Linked DNA regions of Homo sapiens. The protein of the gene in region 2 purifies or fractionates together with the protein of the main gene of each other region. This does not show direct contact. Each region holds a gene or a part of one and is shown on either strand. Other genes may lie near its edges.

Region 1 (8,116 bases), on a different chromosome or scaffold from region 2:
TTTTTTTGCATTTTCAGTAGAGATGGGGTTTCACCGTGTTAGCCAGGATGGTCTTGATCTCCTGACCTCATGATCCGCCCGCCTCGGCCTCCCAAAGTGCTGGGATGACAGGCGTGAGCCACCGCGCCCGGCCTGCATTACATTTTCTGAGTATTGCTGGTGCATTAGGCCCCCCACTGATTTGAATATATTGATACCGTAACCATGAAAATGTATTTGGTTCAGGGGGCATGGGGGAGATAAGGGAGTTACCTAATTTACTGTTTGTACTAACTGGTTTGTTAACTGTCCCCAAAACTGTGATTTCACATGGTCTATCACCACACTAGAGTCATGCGGATTTACTTTCAAAACCATGCTGTAAATAATCTATATGGCTCATCCTCGATTTCCGATACGGCTGTTTCTCTGGTCAAAAAAAAAAAAAAAATCCCATAAAACCTCAGGTAATGCAAGGTAGATCTGGGAGAGATCCTGATAGGCTGGTTCCCAAATCACTGCACTAGTCTATGTATCTCTATCTATCGATCGATAGATAGAATTTTTTTTTTTTTTTTTTTTTGAGATGGAGTCTCACTCTGTAGCCCAGGCTGGAGTGCAGTGGCATGATCTTGGCTCATTGCAACCTCCGCCTCCTGGGTTCAAGCGATTCTCCTGCCTCAGCCTCCTGAGTGGCTGGGACTACAGGTGCACGCCACCACACCCGGCTAATTTTTGTACTCTTGAGTAGAGACGGGGTTTCACCATATTGGTCAGGCTGGTGTCGAACTCCTGACCTCAGGCGATCCGCCCGCCTCGGCCTCCCAAAGTGCTAGAATTACAGGCGTGAGCCACGGCGCCCCGCCTGCATTAGTCTGTATTTACAATACCTGCATTCTAAGCTTTTCAAGCCACTCAGGACCCTTCCTGGCGGAATGTGGGTTCTGGACTTAAGCAGGACCCTAATGGAAATGTGCAGGAATGGGGATCAAGCCATTCAAGGGGCAGTCACTGAAGACCACTTTCACCTTCTTTCTCAGTCCTTTACTTTCTCCCTTAAAGGCAAGGGAGACCATATATGCTTTTCCCCTCACAACATCTAGTGCCTGAAAAATCTGACCAAGACTGCATTTAAAAACTGAAGTGTAAAGGTATTGGTTATAAGAACAAACAGCAACCAGCTTAGCCTGGCTCAGCACTGGCTGCTCTGAAATTTCATTACCAGACAACTGATGCTCTAAAACCATTCCCCACATTGGTTTGCTCTGTGGCTGGATAAGACCCAAACTTTATCCATACAGTAAGTGTCTCTATACTTCACACATATAGGGTTTCCATCAAATCCCTTTATCGAGTCTACAACCCTCTCCAACTTCAAATTCACTCCAATACAAATCTGATTCTAACCATGCCAGCCATTCCAAAATCATCTCCCTTCTAGAGACTACATTGGCTAATCCCTTTGTTAAACCTGAACACAATTCCAGCTGCTTTTATGACTCATTTGGCCAACTAGAGCCCAGTTACTGGATAACATGCATACACCACCAAGCTGAACTAATTAACACCAGAATGCAGTTTTCCACTGAATCTACCAAGGGCCAAGAACTGCTTTTCCCCAAGGTTCTCTCTCTCTGTACTCAACAGACTGGTGTGGTCCAATATGCTGCGGGCATTCTCTTTCATTTATAGGAGTGCCTCCAACTGCGAAATGTGAGAGTATGATGTGGAAAGGTTCTAGAACTAGATTAACGTACACGGGCTCCAGCTTTGCAAGGACAAAGGTGCACATTTTAGGGAATCCAGTATCAGCCCCAACTGCCTCCACTATCAGGTACTGTGCTATGAGTTTTCCAACATTATGAGGGAGACCCGATCTGTCGGGCCCTTCTAACGAGAAGCTTCGATTTGCAAAGGCTAAAGTGCCTTCATCAGGGTGAGAGGTACACCCAGCGAGGCCACACTAGTCCATCTGACCCCAAAGGCCATGTTCCTGAGCGCCGCGCTCACCATCCCGCCTCTGATCTTTTCTCCCTCGGCCCGGCGTCTCCCGAGAGGCAACCCGATCCCGCCGGAAGCCCAAGAAGGGCCTAGGAAGCGGGCGGAGGCGAGAGCCAGGAGAGCACCCGGGATGCCGGCCGCCGGGATGCCGGACGCAGGAGGCGGTGCCCGGGGAGCAGGGGCTCACCTGTAGGCGGCCACGGCCCGAGTCTGCAGGTATTTCTGGGCGGTCATGACTCCCACGAAGAGAAAGTTCCTGTCGCGCGGGCCGCCATCTGGGTCCGAGCCGGGCGGCCAGAGCTGCGCCCCGCGCGCATCGCCGCGCGCCCCGCCGGCCTGGGAAGCCGCCGCCTGCCCGGACCGGCAGCCCTCGGGGCTGGCGCGGCGCCGTGGGCCCGCTCGCTTCAGCTCGGAAGCCCGGGGCAGGACGAGCCGCGAGGCCAGCACGAAGCCCAGGACGAGCCCGAGCAGCACGCTGAGCCAGGCGCGCCGGCCGCGCGCGGCCATGCCCGCGCCGCTCCGCCCGCCGGGCCGCCGCCGCAGGCTCCGCGCGCCCTCAGCCCGCTGCCCCCGCCCGCGGAGGCCAGCCCGCCCTAGCGCCGCGAGGCCCGGCCCGGGCAGCGCCGCCGCCGCCGCGGGCCCGCCGCGCCCATCGCGGCCCCCGAGCCGCCCGCAGGCCCCGCGCCGGCGCTTTGTTCCGCACGCCCGCCCCCGCCGCCGCGGCCTGCGCCTTTAAGAGGGGACCATGCCCGGCGCGCGCTAGCGGCGGCTCGGGCGCGAGGTGGCGGCGGCTCCTCCCGCTCGCGCGCGGGGACGCGGGGCCGGCACGACGGCGACGACGGCGGCGGCAGACGAGTCCGGGCTCCCGTCCCGCCCTGCCCGCGTCCTCCGGCTGGCTGGGCTCGGTTCGCACGGCGCCTGTCCCCGTCCTCTTCGTAGCCGGCGCCGCCGCCGCAGCTGCACATCCTCCGGCTTAGCTCGCCATTGCAACAGGAGCCCCTCACGTCACGCACGGCGCGTTATGAAGTGGCCCCGCCGGCGGCGAGCCGTGGCCCCTCTCGGGATCCGTCCGCGCCGCGCGATTGGCGCAAAAGTGAATGAGGGGCGGTTCACGTGGCCGAAGTTTGACCAAAAAAAAAAAAAGCCCTCTCGGGCGCCCCGCCCGCGCGGTCTGCGACTGGAGCTGGCGGGCGGAGGGGGCGTGGGCCCCCGCCCGGCGCCCGCGGGGCCGGAGCTGCCCGTGATCCGCACCTAGCACCCGGCGCAAGGGCGTCCCCGCGAGGACGGCCGCTTCCCGCACCGCGGCGCCCGGGCGCGAATCTCGGGAGCCAGCCTTGCAGTGGGGGCTTCTCGGCCCCCAGACTCCACGCTGCGCACGTTCCTCCCGCACGGGCCGTCCTCGCTGCACCCCACGGCCACGCCCTTCCTGCCGCCGGGCCGGCCCCGCGCTCCCGGCCCCGCGCTCCCGACCACACTGCAGCTTTGTCCGCAGTCCCGCGGCCGCACGCAGGGAACAGCCGTCCCGGAGCCCTGGGGACGTGCGCGCCTGCGAGTGGACCGTGAATTCAGTTACCTTGTTCCCTGTTGCTAGTTTCTACGCTAAATAAGAAGAAGAAGAAGAAAAAGCCATCTTTAATACTTAAGGTCCACGCTTCTCATACAGTACTAGCATTTAATGGATCTCGAAGACAAGGAAAATGAAGTTAATGCCCTGGATGGTAAACCCTACTTTCATTTACATACTGTGTGGGCAGATAGCCGGCTAGTACCCCCAGCCTGGGACTTTGTCCCTACTTTAATATAGTCCGTCTGTAAAAGTGCCGTGGATTTCTAAAGACGGATTTTGGGTCCCAGATCCTCTACTCTGGATTTTAAGTTTTATACATTTCCTCTGCAATACTTCAGCTAAGGCAGCAAAAGCGGAGGTCTCCATACAACGAAAGTTTGTGTAGAGTTTCAGTCTTGTTACTTAGTCACCAGTATATTGGGGTTTTCTAATGAAACTTTTGAAGGGCAAAGTGTTTCCCTGGGCCTGAGAAGTTACCTGCATTGAATCAAATAAACACATGCCTGGGGCAATCCTTGGATCTTTCTTCATTGTTGACCAAATGGTTGAAATACTATCACACAGTTTAAAATGCCTGTGGGAGCTTCAGATACCTTCTCGGCACCTGAATGGTGGTCACTCTTGTTTATTCTTTGGATATTACCACTTTCTTTGACACTTGTGATTTATATTAAAAATAGTTCATTACCTACCTTCCCACAGAGCCCCTCCCTAAGGGGTGATCCACATCTAAAAATAAAATACTCATTATGCAGTGAATACAGGATTCCAGCAGTGGTCTTGGGAAAAATACAGAACATACAACCATGAATTACAGGCTCGAAAACCATCGAAAAAGGTTTCCACTAAGACCATAAACCACAAATGCCGAGGAGTCACCAGATCCCCCAAATTCAGCAGCCCCATCATTCACAGTGATTTACATGAAGTACGAATCTGGCCAGATTCAGATGTTCAATTTTGTAGCATATTCAACGATTTCAGTATTTTCTAACCTGCTTTAGACTTACCTAGTTTTCTTCGAAACTAGTGTCCAGTGAAAAGCTGGCCGGGCGCGGTGGCTCACGCCTGTAAACCCAGCACTCTGGGAGGCTGAGGCGGGCGGATCGCCTGAGGTCAGGAGTTCGAGACCAACCTGACCAACATGGAGAAACCCCGACTCTACTAAAAATACAAAATTAGCCGGGGGTGGTGGTGCATGCCTGTAATCCCAGCTACTCGGGAGGCTGAGGCAGGAGAATCGCTTGAACCCGGGAGGTGGAGGTTGCTGTGAGCCGAGATCGTGCCATTGCATTGCACTGCAGCCTGGGCGACAACAGCGAAACTCCGTCTCAAGGAAAAAAAAAAAAAAAGTATATAAATATCTGATGGGAATAATATTCTGAGGATGCCAAATATTTTGTCCTCCTCAATATCCTGGTTCCTAGTTGTCCCTCAGTTCCTAGGTTAACAGTCTCACCTGTCTCACCTGCAGGCTTAATGGGGGTCTTTCGTAATGTAGAAAGGATACCCTTTTCTTTGTAAAGGCTGAGCCTGAGGGCTTACAATTCCCTGGAGAAGGAGAGTAAGACATACGGGAACTCCCTCTGGGAGAAGAGGGATATGCCAGGCCAAGAGAGGGTTGGAAGGAGAAGAGAGAAACTGAGGTCCTGTAGAAGTCTGCCAGGGGCAGGGACCAATTCCGGCATGCAGCCTAGGAGCAGGAGGGCAAGCTCTAGCACATCTGGAAGGAGCAGCTGGATTGTTGAGCTGAGGCAGTTCTCCTGGGGAAGAATCCAAAAGTGTCCCAGTAAGGGGCCTGGCTCAGGAGACAAGGCTATCCTAAGTGGGGATTTCACAGCCAGTAGCAAATACCTGGAATCAAGAACTTCAGTGACAGCCAGAGACCCAAACAGCTGGACAGGACTGGTACCCCCAGTATGAAGGCCTGTCCCATGCCCAGCCCCACTAGTCAATACCAGCAAGGAGCCAGGGAGGACAACGAGGGTCTGGAACATCTGCCCCCAATGCACACACATGCGTCCTTCCCCACAGCCCCCTGGAGGCCAAGGCTGTCCTCATCCTAAAGCCCCCTCACCCTAAGTAATTTTTAAAGGTAAGGAGTAGGCAGGGTGATTCGCATTTATAGGGATTTCACTGCAGGGAGCTGAGGAAAGACTTTTCATGTTCCGGGCTTCTTGATTTCACTGTGCTACTGGCCTTCTCTGTTGAGGGAATCATTGACCATTTTTCTCATCATAAAAGAAGGGGAGGTATTAACTGTTACCAGGAACACTTGTAAGGAAGCCCTTAACTGTAGTTATTCCATGAAAGTCCCAATGGCACAGGAGTGGCCCAAGAGGTGGGCTGTGATGGATCAGGGATCAGGAGTGTGGGACCGAGTCTGAGCTCTGCGTGGAGTGAGTTCCACCTGGAGGGGCTCCGGGAGTCCGGCTCTGTCTCCAAATGAGTCTTTCTGCTGGATCACGTTAAACGGTCCTCCATAGTGATTCCAGACCAGTATTCAGAAATGTGTTCAAAAATCCCAGATCACTTAACTTCCCTTCTGTGTTCATGAGTGTGACTCTTTATGACACATTATTAAAGTTCATCGCCACCTACCTTACTGAGCATTTTCTCACAGATGGCAACTTTGTTCCCACACACTTCACATTTCTTTTCTGTTGCTAATACATTGAACGTCTGTTACCAGTATAACATTTCATATAATTTGCAGCAATTTCTTGGAAACCCTTGGTAAATACCTCAATTGTTTGTTGGCAGCAAGCCTCAAACGACCGACAGAGTTCCCTGTTAGAGCTTCTTTAAAGATGAAGCCTCTCCACTCACGCCTCAAACAGGGGTCCTTGGAAAAAGTGGTAATTTTTATTAAAGAAAAAAAACTTTCAGAAAGGCCTGTTTTAAGAAACAGTGAATGCTGAGGAGTTATAATCATCCATCCTTTCAGAAGGTTCTGTTCACTGCCTGCAAAGAAGAAAATCTATAATGACCACTTTACTAATATTGCCACTTAACCTCTGTTAACCCAATAAAACACTGCTTCATTATGAATGCTGCTATTAAACTTACAAGCAAGATCCTCATGAGGTTGTTAATTTCGCTCACTATTTCCTTCTGTTTGTAGCATTTCCAGTCAGATGCAGGAAAGGGCAAGTGAGCAGGGCTCACGTTCTGGTTTCACACACTGGCCTATTCCAGCCCTGGGTGTTCTGCAAAGTCCTTCAGTGCTTATCAGCTGTGTACACCGTTTCCATCAGACGCTGAGTCAGTGTGAGTGCTTCTCACACTGTGTGTGTGTGTGTGTGTGTGTGTGTGTGTGTGAGCTTTCATGTGTACGATAGAGACACAAAAGAGATTTAAGTTCAGTATAACCATGTGGACCAGCCAGATGGGATGTGATCTTCCTAACTAGAAAACGCTGGGTGCCGCCAGCACAGGCACTACTGGGAACCAGCCTGAATGTTCTTTAGGAGACAACCTCACTGCAGAGGCTGAGGACAGTTGGCTTCTGGTGTTAAGACTTAATCCTTGTGGAGAGGAGTTTGCCTTTCCCATCCCTTGCCAAGAAATGCATTGATCTTTAAAGCGGTGCCAGAGTTTCCACAGCTGGGAAGTTTGCACAAAGACAAAGCTCCTATCCACAGGAGGGAACTCCCTGTAGGAACCCAGGCACTGGACAGCTGGGCAGCAGCATGGCCACCTGAGGGCTCAGTGCAGCTGGGGCCAGATGTGCAGCTCAGATTCGATTCCCACTGGAGGCCTAATGAAACGTAAAACTGGGAAAAACATTCACGCTGCAGAAGACGGTTTAAGCTACAAATTGAGGCAGCAGAAATAGGGATCTACAAACACCTGAAAGTACAATGCAAGAGAAAACACTGTCACCATAATACTCATGGCTAAATGGCCCCAGGTCATTGATCCTTCTCACACCCAGTTATGCTATCAAGCCCATGCTAGGGTCATAAACACTCTTAATGCACACCTCATGGGTGATAAATGTTGTTATCCAAAGTTGGCAATTAAGGCCTCTCTAGGAACTCAAAATAATCACCGTATGTATATTCACTCGGAGGAGTCTGTGGAAATAGAGGCTTTCCCAACATGCTTGCGGGAGAGCAAAGTCATACAAACCCACTGGGAGGGCGGTTTTGTTTGAATATAAGTGTGAATTTTTATTTCCATTTTTTTAAAGACAGGGTCTCACTTTGTCACCCAGGCTGGAGTGCGGTGGAGTGATCGTGGCTCACTGTCAACATTACACATTACAAGTGCATTTGCTTTCGACCCCACAGTCCTGCTTCTGAGATTTGTCCTCCAGCCATACCAGTACAAAATGACACTTGAACGAGGTTATTCTCTGCGACACTGTTTGTGATAGTAAAAGATCAGACCCCAGTGTTCATGTATAGGGGAATGGATAAATACACAAAGGCGCACCCATCAGAGAATGAACTATTGTGCAGCTGTAAACCACAGCAAGGAGGCGCTCTCTCTACTGAAATGGCACAAAACAGAAAGCAGAAAGAATAAGAAGTTTGCTAGTGTTTTTATAACAAAACACTAGAG
Region 2 (7,163 bases):
CTCAGGTGGGGGTAGGAAGCGAGATACGGAGCGGGGAAACTATGGAGGGAGAAGAAACCCGGACTCTATTTCTTCTGCTTCTTGTTTTATCTAAGTATTATTCGTTTTTAGTGTTGATTAAAGTCTTTGGGAAATTCTGACCTTAGGGTTGGGCTGGGGGAACCATGGAGGGGCTGTCCCTACTAGGGCAGAGCTTTAATTGGTTGGGGAGGGGAATCTAATATTGCTAGGAGGGTTCTTGGTTTCTTAGCAACAAGACAGCGGTGGGGAGGTGGTGCATAGCAGGAAGGGAGGGTACTAGGACTCAAAAGGGCTCTCAGGTCCCGAGAAACAGGTTTAAGTCACTATTTTTGCTTTCCTTTTTGCTTATGAGTCAGAGACTTTGGAGAAACATCGCACAAGGTTACAAAATGACACTGGGTCATTAGCTGCCTTGTATGGGGGCTGGGGGAGAGTACTGCTCTACAACATTAGAGGCTCCCCTGAGATATTTTTAAAAAGATATCTTGCATGCTAAACACTTCATTTTTTTTCCCTCCTCACTCTGGTGCATGTTCTTAACTCAAGGGTTAATTAACAAACTAAATTTTCTGCTTATTAAAAATAAATATGCAGTGAAAAATCTTTCCTTGATTTGTTTACAGCAGTTCAAATCTGATACGATCTCCCAGAAACTATGTGAGCAGGAGGCAGTGGCTAGGAAAGCCCTTGACTGCCCTTGTGAAAGGAGACCAGATATTCCCTCTCTCTCAACTATTAAAAAGTATGTCACGGGCCAGGCACGGTGGCTCATGCCTGTAATCCCAGCACTTTGGGAGGCCAAGGTGGGAGGATCGCTTGAGCCCAGGAGTTTAAGACCAGCCTGGGCAACTTGTCTCTACAAAAAAAAAAAAAAAAAAAATTTGCCAGGCATGGTGGTGTGCACCTGTAATACTAGCAACTTGGGAGGCTGAGGCAGGAGGTTCACTTGAGCCCAGAAGTTCAAGACTATAGTGACCTATGACTGTACCACGGCACTCCATCCCGGGTGACAGAGCGAGGCCCTGTCTCAAAATACATATATATATATATATATATATATATATATATATATACACACACACACACACACACACACACATATATACACATATACATAATATATATAAAATACATACATATATATATATAGTATGTCATAAAACAGCATTGGACTTTTATTTTTTTAATAATGGGGGTCTCACTGTGTTGCCCAGTCTGGAATGCAGTGGCTATTCACAGGTGTGATCATAAACTCCTGGCCTGGAACAATCCTCCTGCCACAGCCTCCTGAGCAGCTGAGACTGCAGATGTGCACCACCATGCCCGGCTCAACGTTGGACTTTTATACGTGAAGAAACATAAAGCCATACTGAAAAGCGACTAAGCTCCTGTTAGTTTTCTGAGGGTCCCCTCTCCTCACAATGAGCTTTCACAACTCTGAGGCTGGGTCTCCCCAGGGCCTGCAAGAGCACATCCAGGCTTTCTGACCTAGTACATAAAGCCCTTTCATGGTCTGGCCCCTGACCTACCCACCTGTGCAGCCTCTTCTGGTTCCCACATTTACAGTTCCATAAACTCATGCTGCTTCCTAGACCTAGAGAAGCAAACCTCTCCTTTTTTTTCTTGTCTGCCATAGATGTCACCTTCTTCAGAAGACGTACCCCTACAACCATCCCTGGTCTGGCTCAGGTGCTCTGAGCCCCCTTAAGCCCGATGGGCACCTACATCACAGCATTTGTATTTCTACCTTTGTCAGGTTACTCCTCCAGGTGTTCATTAGACTGAGTTTCTTGAGGACCAGGGTCACACAGTTAATACCGATACCCTTCTGGTGAGCCACAGTACCACACAAAATCAGCTCTCAGTAAACAAAAATAGGCTGGGCGCAGTGGTCCATGCCTGGAATCCTAGCAGTCTGTGAGGCCGAGGCAGGAGGATCGCTTGAGGCCAAGAATTTGACACTAGCTGGGGCAACACAGCGAGAGCCCTGTTTACAAACACACACACACACACACACACACACACACACACACACAGAAAAAAAAAGCTAAAAATTAAATTTAAAAATAAATAAATGGAAACAGCCAAAAAAGATCAAAAGGGGGTGGGTTGCAAGTGAGAACATGTCCATGGAAGTCAGTCCGCTATCAGACGCCCTGTGGCTCTCCCAGGTGCAACCAGAAGAAAGCTGTAGAGGGTAGGAAGCAGTCATATCTAGCGATTCTTTCCAGGCTAAAGGAGCTGGATAAGTGTCATCCAGCTGGAAAGTGCACGTGGTAGGAAAAGGCAGTCAAAAAGAGAACTAGCCAAGCAAGGCCTTTCTTCTGGGTTTTTCCAGCAGGAATCCTAAGTGACGCCTGCCCCGCTCCCCGACCCTCCTCTACCAAATAATCCCATCAAGGTGGCTGGTTTCAACACTTCATTCTTTCCTCTTCCCAAGGACCCCAATTCCTGGCCCTTCTACCCTTAAACTCTTTCCTGGCTCTTCTGCACTTCATCCAGTCCGGGGATCCTGCCTCCTGCATGCCACCCTAAGATGTGGTTAGAGGTAGCGCAAGGCCATCTCCCCAGCCAGTGGTCCCTGAGGCCCCTCTGTCAGTCTCCCACTTCCTATGTCCCCATCCCCAAGGCCCAGTGCGCTGTAGGCTCTTCCTGCCTTGCCCCCCATCCCTAAGGGTCCTATGCCCAGTACCCCACTTCCCCGTGATCTTTCCTCCATCCCTGGTGCCATCCCCATCCTCCAGGCCCCGTGTCCTGAACTCTTTCCGGGGACCGCTTCCCCTCTCGGGTTCTCCCGAGCGCCCAAGGCAGCCAGCGCCAACCTTTGACATTCTCTGAGGCCTCTAATAATCTGGTCGGAGTTATTCTGAGGCGGGAATCCTTCTTTAGAGACTTCATGGTGCCGCCCGGCACCATGAAACGTTGCCCTGCACCGCCGGCCCAGAGACACCGAGGCTGCGCCGCACCCGCCAGCCAACGGCCGCCACTGCGTCCACAGCAACCGGTGCCCCGCGCGGGGGCGCGCATCCACCGATCAACTTGGGCGGAGACGGCTTGGAAACCTCCTTCTTCATCGGGCCGCGCACGCGCCCGCCGCCGGCGGCTTCAAGAGCGACGGACCCCTAGAAAGCCCTGCGGGCCCGGCCTGTGACGCCACAGGCGGCGCCGACGAGCGCCGTGACGTCACCAGCCGGGCGGGGCGGGGCGGGGGACCCGGGCGAGGACCCCCGCGAGTTGCGGGAGCCGAGGGCTGGGTGGGAGTGGCTGGCTGGTAGGGGTGCATGACCCGCCTCGCCCCGCCCTGCTGCTAGGCCACGGGGGGCGGGTGGGGCGTCGGGGGTGCCAGCCCCTGCTTCCCGCCTTCCTCGACTAAGGCCACATCCTGTCGAGGGACCTCCCTCTGCCCCCCTCACAGCGGTTCTGGGGGGGGATCGGGCCTTTCAGGACGTGCTGAAACCCCTTCGTGGCGTACCGTAGGTTTTAGGTGTCCCTGCCTGCCGTCCCCAACTCGCACCAACGCGCCTGGAGACCTCCCGGGTCCACGCTCGCTGCAGCCACTTTGGCCTTTCATCACTTCCCAAACCAGCCAAAACTTTTGCCCTGACTTGGGGCATTCTCACAGTCCTTGGAGATGCTGCCTCTGATTATTTTAAGTTTATAAACGCACCCGCTTTTTTCGCCTTCCCCTGGAGCCCTGAGGCATTCTGGGATTATTTCGGTTTTTTGTGTAGTTGCCTATTGTCAAACTGGCTCTCAGAATGTATGAGAGCAGGAGCTGCCTCAGGCCCTGCCCCCAACCCAAAGTTTAGCACTAGTAGTCAGGCAGTAAATTGTACCTCAAATAGTGAAGGGGTTCTAGAGCCAGACAATTGGGTTCTAATCCCAGCTATGTCGGCTTGTTAGCTGTGTGTTCTTGAGCCAATGCCTTGACCTAGAGAGCCGGTTTTCTCTGCTGGGCACAGTGGTTCAGGCCTACAATCCTAGTGCTTTAGAAGGCTGAGGCAGGAGGATTGGTTGAGGCCAGGAGTTCAAAATTGACCTGAGCAACGTAGGGAGACTCCATTCTAAAAAAAAAAAAAAATTTTTTTTTTTTTTTTTTTGAGACGGAGTCTTGCTCTGTGCCCAAGCTGGAGTGTAGTGGTGCCATCTCGGCTCACTGCAACCTCTGCCTCCCAGGTTCAAGCGATTCTCCTGCCTCAGCCTCCTGAGTAGCTGGGATTACAGACGAGTGCCACCATGCCTGGCTAAGTTTTGTATTTTTAGTAGAGATGGGGTTTCACCAGTTGGTCAGGCTGGTCTCGAACTCCTGACCTCGTGATCTGCCCGCCTCGGCCTCCCAAAGTGCTAGGATTACAGGCGTGAGCCACCGTGCCTAGCCTAAAAAAATTTTTTTTTAATTAGCTGGCTTTGGTGGCCCACACCTGTAGTCTTAGCTACTCTGGAGGCTAAGGCAGGAAGATTGCTTGAGCCCAGGAGGTCCAGGCTGCAGTGAGCTCTGATTGCACCACTGTACTCCAGCCTGGGCAACAAAGTGAGATCCCCATCTCATACATCCATACATACATATATACATACATAAAATGGAGGTCATAATGCTGCTCTCACAAGGCCACTGCCAGGGTTAAATGAATATGTATGTATTTCTTTTTCTTAGCGAGTATCTCACTCTGTTGCCCAGGTTGGAGTGCAGTGGCACAATCATAGCTCACTGCAGCTTCAAACTCCTGAGCTTAAATGATCCTGCTGCCTTAGCCTTCCGAGTAGCTGGGACTACAGGCATGTGCCACTGCACCCAGCTAATTATTAAATTTTTTGTAGAGACAGGGTCTTGCTATGTTGTTCAGGCTGGTCTTGAACTCGTGGGCTTAAGCGATCCTCCCGCCTTGGCCTCTCAAAGTGTTGGGATTACAAGCATGAGCCACCTCACCTGGCCTGAGTGTGCATTTAAACTACGAAACAGGGTGCCCTCCATAAACTGTAGTATCTTCTCAGTCAATTCTCAAAATCATGCTGGGGTTGAAGGGAGGGGACACATTATAAGCCCATTTTACAAACGGAGAAACTGAGCTCCAGAGAGAAGGGTGTAATGTCACCTGACTAGCGGGAAGCACAAATTGAACCTGGTTTTCTAAAGTCCAAGGCCAGGGCTCTTTGAACCCTGTCTCCTGGGACATTTCTGAGTTTGCAAGAGCTGCCCCAGACAGCGGAGGAGCTAGAGACGATGCCAGCAGTGCTGGTGAATCCCTGAGTTCCCTGTGTGTTGCCCGTTGCTGGGTCCTGCTCCAGGGCCATGGCCCCTTCTTCACACTGCTCTAGACCTTGCTCTCCTTATGACTGAGGCATCCTCCACGGACAGCCCCTCTCCTGCTCTCCGAGGCCCAGGCTCTGGCTTCCCTCTACCCTCTAGAGAATCCCCAGTTCCGTTTACTTCGCGACTGAGCACTTATGATCCAGCAGGCTAGGTGCTGTGCCATGTGGGTCCTCCAGGAAGCAAGCACTGAGATGAACATAGGACCGCAAGAGGTTTATTGCGGAGAGAGGGGGTAGTGGCAAGGCCGGTGAGGGAGAGGAAGCAGGAAAGGGCTGGGAGAGCCTCAGACTGTGCTGCAGATCTAACAAAGTCTTGGCCAACCCAGCATGTCCTCTGGGCAAAGAATGTTTGTTAGAAGTTGTCAGCTAACTGCCCTCCTTGAGGGTGAATGGCAAGTTCTTTCTTGAAGGGAGACAGGAATGGCTCACCTCCGTGGCTGTCCCAGAAGCTCTGTAAGATATGGAGGAAAATAAGAAACATTTCCTCTTGCCCTCTAGGAGCTCAGAGTCCACTCTAGAGCAAAAGACAAACGCTCATGAAACTCTAATCCGTGCACCCAGTTTCAGGAAGAAGGCCTTTTAACTTTGGGAAGTTACACAGCTTGTGGGTGGCATGTTTGGGAGCAGGACAGAGGCTTGGGGATTGTGACGGGAGGGTTTGGTGACCAAAGGACAAGGGAAGAAGCAGGTAGGGGAGTATGTGGTCAGGCAGGCATGCAACCTGGCTGGGCTCTGCCACCAGCCCCTGAGTGACCTTGGACAGGTCTCACCCCCTGTCTGTGTCCCAGTATCACCATCTGCATCATGACATGAAGGGGTCCAGACCAGATCAGAGCTGCTTCACCTTTTGAGAAGCCAATCAAACCTAGGAATCTTCTCCTGAGAAACGTGCATTTGACTTTTTTTAAAACTGTTGTAAAATACACATAACATAAAAGTCACCATTTTAATATATTCAACTGAGTGACATTTAGTACACACACAATGTAGTGCCACCATCACCACTACCTACACTACCTACATCCAGAATGTTTTCATCATCCCCAAAGGAAACCCTCTACCAGTCATTCCCCAGCCCCGACCCCCATCCCCTAACAATCGCTAAGCTCCTTTCTGTCTTTACTGATTTGCCTATTCTTGATACTTCATATCAATGGAATCATACAATATTTGGCCTTTTCTGTCTGTTTTTTTTTTTTTCACTTAACACGTATCAGTGACTCCATTCCTTTTCGTGGCTGAATAATATTTCGTTTATGGGTATACTGTATTTTGTTTATCCATACATTTGCACATCTGATTTTGCACATGACTTTGTATTCAATTCCAGAGATTCCCTGAAGCTCACTGATGTGCGACTGGGGTGGGGGTAGAAGAAGGTCAGAGTGCTTTAGACACAAAGTGGGGTCATTTGAAAGTAGATTTCCAACTCTAATGTGTGAGCTCATGGGGTAGTCATTAGCTGCAATTTAGGAACCACAGACTGGATATGAGGGGGGCCTTCTTAGAGGAGGTAGCACTTCTTAGAGGAGGTGGGCCACTAAATAAAGAGTTCAATGGGTAGTTCAGGGGGCAGGTACTCCAGGTGAGGACACAGAAGGTACAAAGGCCTGGAGGGGGCTGGGCATGATGGCTTGTGCCTATAATCCCAACACTTCGGGAGGCTGAGGCAGGAGGATCACTTGAGCCCAGGAGTTTGAGACCAGCCCGGGCAACATAGTGAGACCCCGTCTCTACAAAAAAATTTCTAAAAATTAGCCAGATGTGGTGCCATGCCCTTGTGGTCCTAGCTACTCAAGAGAGTGAGGTGGATGCATTGCTTGAGCCTGGGA
Region 3 (7,558 bases), on a different chromosome or scaffold from region 2:
AGAAAAAAGTTTGTCAAAAATTAGTGTAATTGGTTTCACTTGCAGTTTGTTAAGTTCAGAAAAAACGTTTAAAAATAAAATTTTGCAGCTAAAACAGTTGAGAAGCACTTGGTATTCCAAGTGATACATTGGAATAAGTAGAGAGTCACCTTCTTCATATTCCCAGTCAGCATCTTTACTACCATTTTTGATGAGCACAGCATCTGCAGTCATTATCTTGATCCCATGCCTTGCCCCGTGTATCTCAATGAGTTTCAGCTATTATTGGATTCTTAATTCAAAACACATTTCATTCTTAATAGAAATTGAAATAATATGTCATTTTAATGTTCTGAAGGACAATCTTTCAAAGTATTAAAACAAATGAAAGAAGTAGGTGCTGTTAATGCATTTTATAAATTCCCTGCAAAATGTGGCAAACTTCTGCCAGGAAACCTTTGTAATTTTGAGATATCCAAGGCAAGGAACTTAAAGTAGAGGAAGCTTTCTTCTTTGAGTCAATCCTAAATACCACTGTTAAAAATGTAATGAGACCATTCTTTATTTTTATATCCAATTATCAGTATTTTCTATTCCAACCTGCTCTAGAGTGACTTCCCTCCTTCCAATCCAAAGCCAAGAAATCTCTAGTTATTATGATTACACTAATTCCTTGTGCCAAAATGCAACAGTTTGGGTTTATTGTTTGGCTTTTTGTTCGTTTTTCTTGCATTATGTGAAAAGTACTATCCGAATCAGGAGGAAGCAATGAGGCTACGAGTAGAAAGGCATAAAATAAGGAAGGGCTGCCCCCCTTTGACCGGGAAGCAAGGAAATGTGGAAAACACAGAGAAACCTCATTCGGTACAACCCTGCTGCTTCCCTTGCGTTGCTCCCCATCTCAGCAACTGGCTGGACTGGAAAGATTCACTTCTCTGACCTAAAGAACTTTGATCCGCTGAGTTTAGAAATTCTCTGTCCAGAGCCGCCCACATTCCGGGAAAAAGACCGCGCCTCTTTTAAACTGACAAAAAAAGTTTTTTCTTGCTGTGGCTGCCTGTGGTTCTGGGAAGGACTTCCAGCCTCTGCTTATCACCGCGGCCAACAAAATGCACTGGAAAGGAACCAATACTAGTGTGTGCTAGTACAGTCTGCTGTTCCCAGGGGTCTGGCTTATTAGCGGGTGCTTTCCTCTTTTCCCCCACCACCAATTCCTTACAACATGCCCATCCTCTCAGGGTTTTATTGAGGTGTGGCGGGGGGATGGGGGACGGCTTGGTGCTGAACTGTAGCGGCTGGAAGGAGCAGCGCGCTGGCACGGTGGGGATGGCCAAGGACTCCCAGTATGTGGAGAGTTGAGCCAAAGGGAAGGGAACACATAGGAAAGGGTCCGGGACAGCGAAGACGATTCCTCAATCTGAGCAGTTCCAAAAGTGCGCTAGATCCAGTTTAAACAAAAGAGCAAGATCCAAAGCCAGAACACTGGATCTCCAGACTAGTTGTAGCTAGCATCCTCCGTCTTCCCTTCCTGAAGACCACGCCCCTCTGGACCGATTGGGGAAACTACCATCAGCAGGGGCTTTCAGAGGAGGGCAGAGTGGGAATGGCCTTTGGTTTAGCTCTAAGGTTCCTTTTCTAACCTCTCCGACGAGGTAAAGACTAAGGGACAAGCGCGAGGCGGCACCGAAAACAGCAAGTGAGGAAGGCGAATAAAGCCAGGCAGGTGTGAGGAGGGTCCAGATTGCAGAAGACGAGGAACGGGCTACGAATTGTGGGCGGATGCAAGGGGTGGGGAGGGCGGGCCAGGGCCTGTGGGAGCCCGAAGCACGTGCTGGCAGAGAAGCAGCGGAGGGGCTGGGCAGGGGCTAGGACCGGTTACAGAGAAAGGAGTCGGGGAGACTGGCAGGCTGGAAAGCCGGCGCAGGGAGGTCACCTTTGATGTAGACATCGTCGTCGGCGCGCATGAACCACTCATACTTGTCCAGGTAGTGGTCGTGCATGTACTTGATCATCATGAAGGACTTTTTCTGGGGAGGATAGGAGTCGTCCACACCCGGTAGCGCGATGACAGGCAGGGGTGGCGGGGGCTGGCCGGCGTTGGGGGGCTGCTGGCTGGAAAAGAACTCCACGCGGCCCGGGATGAAACGCGCCCAGGTCCGCTGCGCGGCCAGCGCGCGGCTGCCCAGGTACTTCTGCGCGGTCATCACCCCCACGTACAGGAAGTCCCGGGGTCGGGCGCTCGGGGCGGCAGCGCCCCCGTCCCCGCTGCCGTTGTGGCTACTCCCCGGCCGGCCGTCTCTCCGCTGCCCAGCCGCGCCCCCGTCCTCCTCCTCGGGCTCCCCCTCGGCCGCTGGAGCACCGGGAAGCCCCGTCGCGCCCTCAGGCTCGCGTCCTCGCCGCCGCTGCTGCAGCGGAGGTGGCTGCTGCCAGGGGCTGCTTCGAAAACTGGTGATCCCGGGTGCTGCCTCGGGCAGCGGTGGCCCCTGGAGATCCTGGCGCGCGGGGGGCGGCGACTGCTCCTGCCGTGGTCGGGACTGGGGCTGGGGGAGCGGCTGCTGAGCGCCGGCGCGGGGGCCAGCAGCAGAGCGACCGTAGTAGGAGCAGAGGCTGGAGCCACGTCTCTTCCTCTCGCTCAGCTCCGCCACCCTGGGGGCGATGAGCCAGGACGCGGCGGTGAAGCCCAGCACCAGCCCTAATGCCACGCTCATCCACGGGCGGCGAGAGCGCACAGCCATCGCGGCTGTCCCGGGCGCGGACGCTCGCTGGGCTGTCGCGGCGCGGCACGCGGTTTCCCCGGCTCACACCCGCCCCTCCTCCGCCTTTGCGCCCCCAGCCGCGGCCGCAGCCGGCCGCCTAGGCGCCGACACCGGCTGGAGGTCGAAGCGCCGCGGACGCCTCGACTGCCGCGGGCTGCAGCTGCCTGCCGGGCTCCCGCTCAGCTCTGGGCCGGGGCTCCGAGCAAGGGTCGGGAGTGAAACTTCTCCCGGCGGCGGCGGTGGCGGCAGCGGCGGCAGCAGCGGCAGCTGGAGGAGCTGCAGGAGGAGGAGGAGGAGCAGCGGCGGCGGCAACGCGTCCGCTCCTAGGCTGCCACCCTGTCAGTGGCGCGCCTGGGCCCTCCCTCCTCCCTCCTTCCCGAGCCCCCGCCCTCACTCCCGCCTCCCGCTCCCCCCGCCGCCGGGCTCCGAGCTGGCCCGGAGGAGGAGCCGCAGGCGGCACCGCTGCCAGCCGGAGAGAAGCGCGGGCCGCGGTATTTCCCCGTCACCCGCCCTTGGACGCCCCCCGTCCGCGCCTCAGTCCAGAGCCGGCCTCCTCTCCGGAAGGAAACGATCCCTGTCGGGCCGCCTCCGGCTTGCAGCGCCGACGCCCCCTCTTCCCTCCTCCCCCAGCTCTTGCTCTTCGTCCCATTTCCCGTCCCGTCCCGCCCCTCCGCTGGCCTCCCGACACTCGTGTCTGGGGGCTCTACTGGCCTCCTCCCGGCGCCTAGGCTCCGCTGACCTCATCGGCGGAGCTCGGGTCCGGGAGCCCCCAGCAAGTTCGTTGCTGTCCCACCGTGCTCTCCTCCCCCGGCCCACAGCCGGGTACGTCCTGGCGTGACCCTTACCACTCTGCCCCGCCCCAGGTCCGCCAGGGCGCCACTCTTCGCGTTTTCCGTCCTTTCCACGTTGTTCTTACCGCTGCCACTCCGCGCCTTCTCTCTCTAGTCGGTCACTTGTCAGGAAACCAAACGTCCCATCCCAGCACCTCTCCTCCCAGCCTAACTTCCCTCCTACCTGCATCGTCCACCAGCTCTCCTCAGTCCTTCACAGAAGCACCATTGTCGTTAGGGTCTCTCCTAAGAAAATCTCTGAGGGATTGGAAATACTTATCCTGAAAGGCTAAGGGAGTTGGTGGTGTGTGGGGGTTCAATCCCCAAAGAACGTAAAAATCCCATGTCCTCCACCTGTTGAGTTGGAAAATGTGGGGCTGCCTAATGGTCTCCCCCTCGGCTCTCCTGATGATATCTGTTCAAGAAATGAGAACTATGGTCTATTTTCAGTCTTGGTAGAAGATTGGCTCAGTGGGACTGGCAAATAGTGGAGAAATGGGCACACATTCACAGGGCCAATACCCTGAAGATCCAAACGAAAGAAATTCTTACCCCCACAAAATAAGTGAACTTAATCAAAAAATAAAATGGAGGATATGATTTTTATTCTTGCCTATGAACCGTTTTATTTTCTAAGGCAAAGACAGGAAAATTTTACCTCTCCAATGAGGGAGGAAAATTGTCCAGCAACAGAATCTCAAAAAAAGTTAAGCTGTATTGGCCAAAATCATTGTGCCTTAGTTACGTTAGGAAGAAATTACCTGAAGGTATATGATTTTTGAAGAAGGGAGCATTAACAAATTTCTCTCTAAAGGTTGTGCATAAAGCTATAGTCTGGGGTGCATTTGGCATCCCAAGTACTTCCTTCTCTTCAAATTTCAGTCTTCTGTTTTAGACATCAAACGCAAAGGGATGGTATTGAATGGCATTAGACATAATGGCTCGATCCAGCGAGGTGCTGGCAGCGTCCCTGGAACACTAGGCCTGCCTGGAGCCTTTGGAGGAATGGTTCTTTCCACACCGGTCCCTGGCTGTGCATGAGCACGTCTGACTAAATGTTTCATCTGCTGGACAATGAAGCTCCTTTTCCATGTCTAGGTTTTTCCCAGAGACACTTGGGAATACAGATTACTGGGCTCTCTCAAAGTTAAATTTTAGTTAGAATACAAAGCTAGTCAAACAGGCCCCTTCTGATTTTTAAATCGTCAAAGGCATTTTAAAATTTCTAGAATAGTACTATTCAATAGAACTTTCGCTATAATGGAAATTTTTTTTTATTTGTGCTGATAAGACAGTAGCCACATAAAATTATGGAGCATTGAAAGGTGACTAGTGTGATTGAAGAAATGAATTTTCATTTTATTTAATTTTAATTACTTTTTATTTAAATAGCCCCATGTGGCTAGGGGTTACCATGTAGGACAGCACATTTACAGAGGATTTCCTATTGCATATGGTCAACAGTAAAGGACAAATAAGTCCACCTACACACCAGTACCCTCTCCCCTGCAGTATTCAACTGGGCTTTATGGTAATGGATGCCATTCATATTGTTGATCTACAAAATCATTAATTCTCATTGGGCATAAATAACCCAATTCATCAACTGTTTGGAATATTTGGAGAGGAAGTTAATTTCATTCACTTATTCAACAAGTGTATATTAGAGATTAAACATTAGACAAGGTGGAAGGCTCTGGACATGGAGATGTCAACAAACTATTCAGTGCTTCCCATCATGAAGCTTATAGTGCATTGAAGAAGACACATTAAACATCACACTAGGAAATGAATTACAATGGTGATAAATGATATGAATAGAAATACAGAGTACTCTGAGAATATTTATAAGAGCATCTAATTTAGTATGGGAGTCAGGGAAGGCACTAGAAAAGATTCAGATAAAATGAAATCATTGAAGTGATATTACATATGAGACAAGTGACCTTGGGCAAGTTGTGAAAATTCTAAGTTTTTGATTTCTCATCTGTAAATTCATTTCTGTGAGGCTTTATTAATATACTATATGAAGTGCTTAACATAATGTTTAGTTCATTGTAAACACTTGGGAAATGTTCTCATTTTCTAATCCCTTCCCTTATGCTAAAACGTCTCTCTCATGGTATCTATCATCTTATTTTTATTACATTTCATCTTTTCATTTATTTAACAGATACTTATTTAGTATGTACTGTGAGGCAGACACTATCACTGAGAAAAAAAACGTAGACAAAACAAAGTCCTGACTTCATGGGACTTGTATTCTAAGAGGAGATTACACACACACACACACACACACACACACACACACACGCATGCATGTGTGTATATGAAGTATTTTTACATATAAAGAAATATCTGTAATATGTCGGTGTAAGTGTTTATTTAAAAAAAAGAGAAGGATAGTGAGTGTATTATGTGTTGGGTGAGGCCACTTAAAACTGATACGTCAGGAAAGTTCTTTCTGATACTTTTAGCAGAAAACAGAAAAAAGTGAGGAAACTAATCCTGAAGATATCTGAAATAATACTTTTCAAGGAGAAGGAGTAGCTAACACAAGTCTTTGACACAGACATGGCATATTGAGACGCAGCAGAGGCCAAAGTAGATTGGAAAAAGGAGGAAGCGGATGACTTGTTGATAATTTAGGTCAGTGCTGAATAGAATTATAATGTGAGCCACAACTGCAAGATATATAATTTAATTTTTTTCTAGAAGCCTCATTTAAAAACAGGTGAAATTGATTTTCATACTTTTTATTCAACTTAATATACCCAAAATATCGGGAGATATTTTACATCCTTTTTATTAGTACTAATTTTTCAAAACCATTGTGTGCTCATCACTTACAGCACACCTGAATTCAAACTAGCCACATTTCCAATGTTCAATAGACACAAGTGGCTAGGGACTACCATATTGGACAGTGCATATATAGATCCTTGCAGACATTCATAAAGACTTTGGCTTTTATTCCGAGTGACAATGAAGCTGTTGTGTAGAGTAGTGATCTGGTTTTTATTTATTGTTTACAAAGATCATTCTAGCTCCTATGGGGAGAAAATAAACTGCAGTGGGACAAGGGTAGAATTAGAGAAAACATTTAAATCTTTATTGAAGTGACCTCATCACTTGAGAATAGAAGGGAAAAAACAAGCCTCTTTTTTTTTTCTTCCTGCACAGTGTCTGCCCCTTTCCTTATTTGTAATAAGTAGAAGCTTTGGGAAAAGATTTTTATGTAAATTTAATTTTATATGTATTCAGATTCCTGTTATTTGTGGGTGTTATTTGTGGGCGTTTCCCAAAGTCAGTGAAGTAATTTTCTCATCTCACTTTAGTTCTGAAGATACATGACTTTTAGAGGAGGTAATTTTCTGGGAAATCTCTATCAAGAACTCACTTTTTTATTTTCAAAACATTAAGTAATAAGTTATAGGAATAATTTTTAAAAATGTCAATTGGATGTAAGGGTTGTTGAGGAGGAAATTTTCATGGAACTAACATTGAAGAAAAATAAACATAATTGCATACCAAAATATAATAAAAATCTATATACTGTGTTAGAGGAAAGAATACACAAATATAGGTAATTCTATAATAATAACTCTGGAAAAAATGTCTCATATAGTTGCTGTTCTTATCTAAGCAAGAATGTGCCAATAAGTATACTTGTGAACCATCTCATAAAATCTCTGTGAAGCACCTCTATAGTGGATTTTGAGAAAAAAGCAATAATAAAATCCTTCTAAAATTATAATAGTTTACAAAGAAAATTACAAAACTGATTTTCTGTCTTTCCTAAACCCTTTAACTATTTCAAATATGTCCATATTAGACTACAGTAACATATGAATTATTTGCCACCTTCTCTGAGCTGTAGCTACTGGAACATAAGGTATCATCTGGATTCACAGTGAAGACAGATTTCTTCTTGTAGAGATTGTGTTCCTGTGGCTTTGGAAAGACTTTAATGTCAACCACCCCAAGACAAAG

What was found. The genes of interacting proteins can lie anywhere in the genome.
Region 1: the proteins of MYCBPAP (region 2) and CHSY1 purify together in Homo sapiens (co-immunoprecipitation; 2 studies listed by BioGRID and IntAct, with this or other methods). This does not show direct contact.
Region 3: the proteins of MYCBPAP (region 2) and CHSY3 purify together in Homo sapiens (co-immunoprecipitation; 2 studies listed by BioGRID and IntAct, with this or other methods). This does not show direct contact.

Annotation. Positions count from the first base shown.
Region 1 is NC_000015.10:101,248,970-101,257,085, forward strand, and holds the start of CHSY1 (chondroitin sulfate synthase 1), read right to left. Parts: upstream 3,080-8,116; 5' UTR 2,488-3,079; coding exon 2,168-2,487; intron 1-2,167. UniProt on the Homo sapiens protein: Has both beta-1,3-glucuronic acid and beta-1,4-N-acetylgalactosamine transferase activity. Transfers glucuronic acid (GlcUA) from UDP-GlcUA and N-acetylgalactosamine (GalNAc) from UDP-GalNAc to the non-reducing end of the elongating chondroitin polymer.
Region 2 is NC_000017.11:50,504,431-50,511,593, reverse strand, and holds the start of MYCBPAP (MYCBP-associated protein), read right to left. Parts: upstream 3,156-7,163; 5' UTR 3,049-3,155; coding exon of another isoform or gene 2,920-3,048; coding exon 2,844-2,919; intron 1-2,843. UniProt on the Homo sapiens protein: May play a role in spermatogenesis. May be involved in synaptic processes.
Region 3 is NC_000005.10:129,899,986-129,907,543, reverse strand, and holds the start of CHSY3 (chondroitin sulfate synthase 3), read right to left. Parts: upstream 3,080-7,558; 5' UTR 2,715-3,079; coding exon 1,913-2,714; intron 1,703-1,912; exon of another isoform or gene 1,617-1,702; intron 1-1,616. UniProt on the Homo sapiens protein: Has both beta-1,3-glucuronic acid and beta-1,4-N-acetylgalactosamine transferase activity. Transfers glucuronic acid (GlcUA) from UDP-GlcUA and N-acetylgalactosamine (GalNAc) from UDP-GalNAc to the non-reducing end of the elongating chondroitin polymer.